2 separate regions of the Homo sapiens genome follow, and region 1 is linked to region 2. The links come from fine-mapping of genetic effects on gene expression. A gene starts in region 2. The other region holds a variant in brackets. All regions are shown on one strand. Distances are between the middles of the regions. Region 1 overlaps LINC00539 (long intergenic non-protein coding RNA 539). Region 2 holds the start of LINC00539 (long intergenic non-protein coding RNA 539).

The links. PIP is the estimated chance that this variant, and not a neighbour inherited with it, causes the effect. A credible set is the group of variants that fine-mapping cannot tell apart.
Region 1: its variant is the best candidate, but not a certain one, in a credible set for the expression of LINC00539 in whole blood (TOPMed, PIP 0.65).

What each region holds. Positions count from the first base shown.
Region 1 is chr13:21,321,909-21,324,817 of GRCh38, reverse strand. All of the region lies in intron 2 of LINC00539 (long intergenic non-protein coding RNA 539), which reads left to right. It also overlaps the pseudogene MIPEPP3 and the pseudogene GRK6P1. Among named protein-coding and RNA genes, the nearest start is that of LINC00539, 21 kb to the left of the region's middle. The variant T/C (reference allele first, on the strand shown) is at 1,489.
Region 2 is chr13:21,343,435-21,346,343 of GRCh38, reverse strand. It overlaps LINC00539 (long intergenic non-protein coding RNA 539), which reads left to right and starts at 1,485. Exons shown (of 3, transcript NR_103841.1): 1 at 1,485-1,678. It also overlaps the pseudogene MIPEPP3.

The DNA of each region.
Region 1 (2,909 bases), 22 kb after region 2:
ATTAAATTTCCAAGAGCAGTGAACCTTCCCATCACACTTGCATGTCTCGGTCCTAGATCTTCCAAACACGCATGACTATTTGCTTTTGTTTTCCTTTTTGGCCATGTTATCCCAATAAGATCAATTTCAGAAAGGATGTAGGCACCATTGAGGACCCCTTGCTGCACGATAAAGACCCAACTGTAATTCATAACAGACATGAATCGTATTCTACTGTTCTGGGGGTCTAATTTTTTTTTTTAATTCAGAATCTTTGAATCTCTCCCCCAAAGACCTAAGACTAGCTTGAATGTTAGAAGGATCTGTCTCTGGGCTGTATGGAGAAGTGTGGCTGCTATATGAGAGCAGATTCTCATGGAAAAAACATTTTTCCCCCATGGAATTTTCTTCCATGAGTCTAAACCCATCCTGGCTCAGGGCCCTCCCAGTCTCCTGCACTGAGCAAGCAGGTAGGGAGAGAGAAAAGAGGGGTGGTCTGGAGTTTTAGGATCTGCATTTGAATCTCTCCTCTTGATTTGTGACCCTGGGCAAGGCTCTGCCAATCTCTTGTTACCTAGCACCTGGTCTATGCCAGGTCCCAGAGCTTTTTGGGTTCTATCTGGGCCTCAGCATCCACATTGGACAAAAAGGGTAAATATTCCTGCCATGCAGGGTTATTATGACAAATGCAATGAAATAATAAATGTGGAAGGGCTTCTCACAGTGCCTGCCTCAGAGTGGAAACTCAATAAATACTAGGGCATTCTGTGTCTGAAAATCTCACCTCTAATTATTCTCTTTTCCTTCCCTATTATACAAAACAGCAGCAGCAGTAACAGCGACCACAAAATGCACTCCAAGATACTTCTAACCATTTCTTGCTGGGGGAATGTTTGCATCCTTGGTTAGTTAAAACTTTTGTGTTCCTCCCATGTCAGAAGCCCCTGGATCTTGTGTGAAGCTGTGCATTCCCTGATTAGTTTGTTTCTGTCCTTCTGTGGCTTGTTCTAAAGGGCTTTGCTGCTGCCTTCATCTGGGGAAATTCACACACTAATGCAGTGGTATCTCATCCCAATCTATTAGGTGTGACAACTACTGGCAAGAAATAGATTTGTGTTTAATTCTTTGTTGCCCAGCAGGGACCTCTATCACCCAAAGGGAAACAGCCGTCTATCTACGAAGCTGTGATCTCCCCTACAAGCAAGAGAACTCAATTGCCAGGAGGTCTTTGCTTTTTCTGGCTTCCAGAGAATGCAGAAATTTCAAGGAGCCACTATTGGGCTCCTTCCCTATAGGATGTTGGGCCAGGCAACAGAACAAACCTCCTGAGGCACTTCTACCTGGGAATGCCCTCCTGAGGCCAATGGCAGCCCTCTGATGAAGATACTATAGTATTTATTTTTTGTACACGCTGGTGATCATCCAGTGTACATCTCTGCTTAGTGAACCTTCATGAACTGGAGGCTGAATATTCTCATCCTGCATTGATAGAACCACGTAGGCTGGTTC[T/C]AGGCTGTTTTCTGTGCAACACTCAACATGACAATAATAATGATGATGATGCTAATGATGATTGTAAAATCCGCAGTAGTTGCCATTTATTGCCCTATTTGGCTTGTAAGACTTGGCAGATCACAGTGACATACACACACACACACTCTCTCTCTCTCTCTCTCTCTACTGTGTGCCAGGGACTGGACAAAGCACTTTGCATGCATTATAACACTTTTCCTAACAATCCTGCAGCAGGCAGCAGTAGCATCCCCGCTTTATAACTAAGGAAGGTAGAGTTCAAAGAGGTGAAGAACTTGCCTTGAAGTTCAAGGCCATACAGCCCAAAGTGGCAGAATCAGACCTGTACCCAAGTCCATCTGCACAAAGCTGGCGCTTCCACCCTGTACAACATGGTGTGTTTCCAGTGGGCTGTGACTCTCTGGTGGTGGAACCAGCCTTGTCAATTGCTGTCTGCCACATCCAGTCTGACCTGGCTGCCTGGGCATTCTCCCACGCCACGGGCAGCAGTGGTTCTTGCTGCCAGGGCTCCAGGGCATGGGCAGCAGATGGGAGGGAAGGAAGGCCAGCTGTGCAGCTCTGCCAAGCTGAGAGGCGGGGTGCCTATTGATTGACTGAAATTCGATTTGTTGACACAAACTGCCAGCATTTCACAGTGATGAAAGGATGGCCCACCAACCTCATAACAAGCAGAGATTTCCCTGAGGGTCACCAGAGCTGCTGATGTGGCTCCTCTGTGAGGAGAAGAAAGCAATTAGGAGAATGGATGAGGTTATTAGGTCTTATTGCTTCCCTCAGCTCCTGCACACACTGAGTGCTGTGCGGCGTGGGATTTCAGGCTCCCTGTCCTACGTGCTGCGGATTCTGTTTGCGCCTCTTCCACTGCAAAAAGCCAGCTGGGGGACAAACAGCTCATGTACGCTGACTCCAAGCATGTGGAGAATGCACACACAGATTTAGGACACCAAAAGAAACCTGCAGGTGGAACCAGCTTTAGCAGACTTTAAAAATAACAAGATCATTGGAGTATAAATACAAATCCATGAATGCATGAGGCACACCCGTCTCTCCCTCGCTTTCTCCATCCCTTTTTATGTTTTGTCACATTACAAATATTTAGACTGGTTTGATTTAAAAGATCTATTCAGGTAAGCTGGCCAACTACACGTCTATGCAGATGGGCAGGGGAGGAAGAGGAGAGGAGGGTATGTTCTGTGAGGACAGCATTGGTTTAGCAAGTGTTTATCAAAATCTGGAATATGCACAGCAGTAGGGGTGGGTGTATGAGGGGGAGAGGTAAGAAAATATCAGGAATAATGTCACCTTATATTGTATAAGTGGGTTTTTGCAGCAAAATATACATAACATAAAATTTACCATTTAACCATTTTAAGTGCACAGTTCAAGAACATTAAGTACTT
Region 2 (2,909 bases):
CGGAGTCTAATTACATGCACGGAGCTTCAGTTCCCTTCTCTGTAAAATGGGGCTAATACTAATAAGACCTCTTCAGGGCAGTGTAGGAAGTCAATGAAACTCCAACATCTCCAAAACCACCCAGCAGATCACAGGATCTTGAAGTAAGCACAGTGTTTGGCATACAGTAGGCGCTCATCAATGCTGGTTCCTTTCACTCTCTGCCACTTGCTGGCTATGTGTGACTTAACCTCCCAATGCCTCCGTTTCTTCATTTTGAAGTGAAAGATGATGCCTATCCTCAACTTCAGACGAGATCCGGCACGTTCAGGGTGGTATGGCCGTAGACCCCAACTTCAAAACAACAGGCACACCCATTCAATTCAGGTAGCACCCTCCAAATGTGCCATGGGCTTAAGAGGCAGGAAGAGAGCCTGGTATGAGCCCACGGCTTCGGCTCCTGTTGCTCACTCTCTGCAGATCCTTGTGCAGTTCTCTGGGGTCACTTGCTGGTCTTTTTGAGTTTCAGTTTTCTTATTTGTAAGCTGGGGATGGTCATATCTCATTAGATTTTTTGGAGGACTAAATGGGACAATAAATATAAAACGCTCAGTACAAAACTTAGTCTATGGTCAGTGTTCAACAAATACTAGTCACTGGTAATAGTAGAACCACCTGCATTATGACACTATTATTTCTAGGCTCTTATGAGGATTCTCATTTACCAGGCATACTAGCCCTGCAAAACGGACACTATTGCTTCCATTATACAGATGAGGAAACTGAGGCTCAGAGAAGCTAAGTAACTTCTTCAAGGTTGCCCAGGCTGGGCGCAGTGGCTCATGCCTGTAATCCCAGCACTTGGGAGGCCGAGGAGGGCAGATTACTTGAGGGGAGGAGTTTGAGGACAGCCTGGCCAACATGACAAAACCCCGTCAATAAAAAATATAAAAATCAGCCAGGCGTGGTGGCACATGCCCGTAGTCCCAGCTACTCAGGAGGCTGAGGCAGGAGAATCGCTTGAACCAGGGAGGCAGGACTTGAGCATGCCACTGCACTCCAGCCTGGGCAATAGAGCAAGACTCTGTCTCAAAAACAACAAAACAAAACCAAACCAAAAAAAGGTTGCCCGGTTGCCCAGTGACAGAGCCAAGTCTTGCTTTCCAAGCTTGGGCTCACTCTCCTACACTAACTACCTGGCCCCATGCTGCCCAGTCCTGGGCTAGCTGCAGGAGGCTGCCGCATTACCCACCTCAAGCCACACAAGCACTGGCAGTAACAAGAGGCCGTAGAGAACCTAGAGTTCTCCAGCGGATGTGGTTCTCTGGCTGCCGTGGGCTGCCAGGGATCCCTTAGATCGCGGACTCCACAGTTCTTTCTTGCCACCTCCAGAAGGAGGCTGCAGCCCCATGAGCCAGGCAGCAGGAAGGGAGGAAGTCTCGCTTCTTGCCAGACACATTGTTTAACTGCAACAGTCAGTCCTCCAAAAACTCTGCCGGAAGTCCACCCCAGAAACTCAAGGGAGGAAACTGACTGCCTTCTTGGGGTTTTCTTAACTGTGCTTTTTCTGCTCTGCAGGAAAGATGCAACCTGGGCCAGAGGCCCCTGGAGGTTGTGCCTGAACCCAGACAGATCACACAAACCTGAGCAGCCATTAGCCGCTGTGTGGGCTCCTTTGCACTGTGGGGCTGCTCCTGGGGTAAGTGTGTGTCTTTGTGTGTGTGTGGGGTTCGGGGGCTGGGATGGCTGACTTACAAAGGACACGCTGTGGCCCAGCCCTGGGCAGCATCCAGCCTGCTTAGGTGGCCTTCTGTGGGCTTGGCCAAAAACACTGAGGCCTTTCTCTGTTTCACCTTCTTGTGCCAACTTGGCTGTGTGTGAACAAAGAATCACAAGCACACACCTGAGTTCACACTTGTGTAAAATTGGACTGAAGAGCTTGGTGAATCAAAGTTCAAGAAGGGTGACTTGGCCGGGCATGGTGGCTCAGTCCTGTAATCCTAGCACTTTGGGAGGCTGAGGGGGAGCAGATCACTTGAACCCAGGAGTTCAAGACCAGCTTGGGCAACACAGAAAGACCCTGTCTCTACAAAAAAATTTAAAAATTAGCTAGGTGTAGTGAGGTGTGCCTATATTCCCAGCTACTCTGGAGGCTGAGGTGGGAGGACTGCTTGAGCCTGGGAGGTTGAGGCTGCAGTGAGCTGTGATCATTCCATTGCACTCCAGCTTGGGTGACAGAGTGGGACCCCATCTCTTAAATTTAAAAAAGAGAAAGGAGAAGGAGAAGGAGGAGAAGGAGAAGGAGGAGGAGAGGGAGAGGAGAAGAAGAAGGAAGAGGAGGAGGAGGCGGGGGGGAGGGGGAGGAGGAGAAGAAGGAGAAGGGAGGAGATGGAGAAGGAGGGCACCTCAGAAGCCCTCAATAAAAACAGGGAGGAAGAGAACAAACACATCAAAGCTGCTGAGTCTGGTGCCAAGAGCAGGGGACTTAAAAGCTGTGTGACTTTGTCATTTGAGTTAACCTCTCTGATCCTCAACTTCTTGTTTGTGAAGTAGGAATAAGATTTTTTTGTGAGTTTGTTCTGAGGCTCATTAGTAACGTACGTAAAGCTGTTGGCTCCTGGTCTCTCTTATCATTCAGGGTTAAGCTTCGAAGTGGGCACAGGTGCTGGCAGCTATGGAATGGTGGGGAGGTTGCAGGGTGGGTCCCCTGGTCACAGAGAGCTTCTCACTGCCAGGGCTCAGAAGCCCCCTCACTGAGAGGCCTCACTGCCAGGGTTCAGAGCTCCCTCACTGGAGAGGGACTTCTTGAGTGTTGCAAGCTACATGGACAGACCATCTATGAGATCAAGCGTCCAGGCCCCTGGGCCAAGCAAATCTTGGGCCAAGATTGTGTGGCTTTAGGGGACATTATGGAGCCTCTGAGGGCCTCA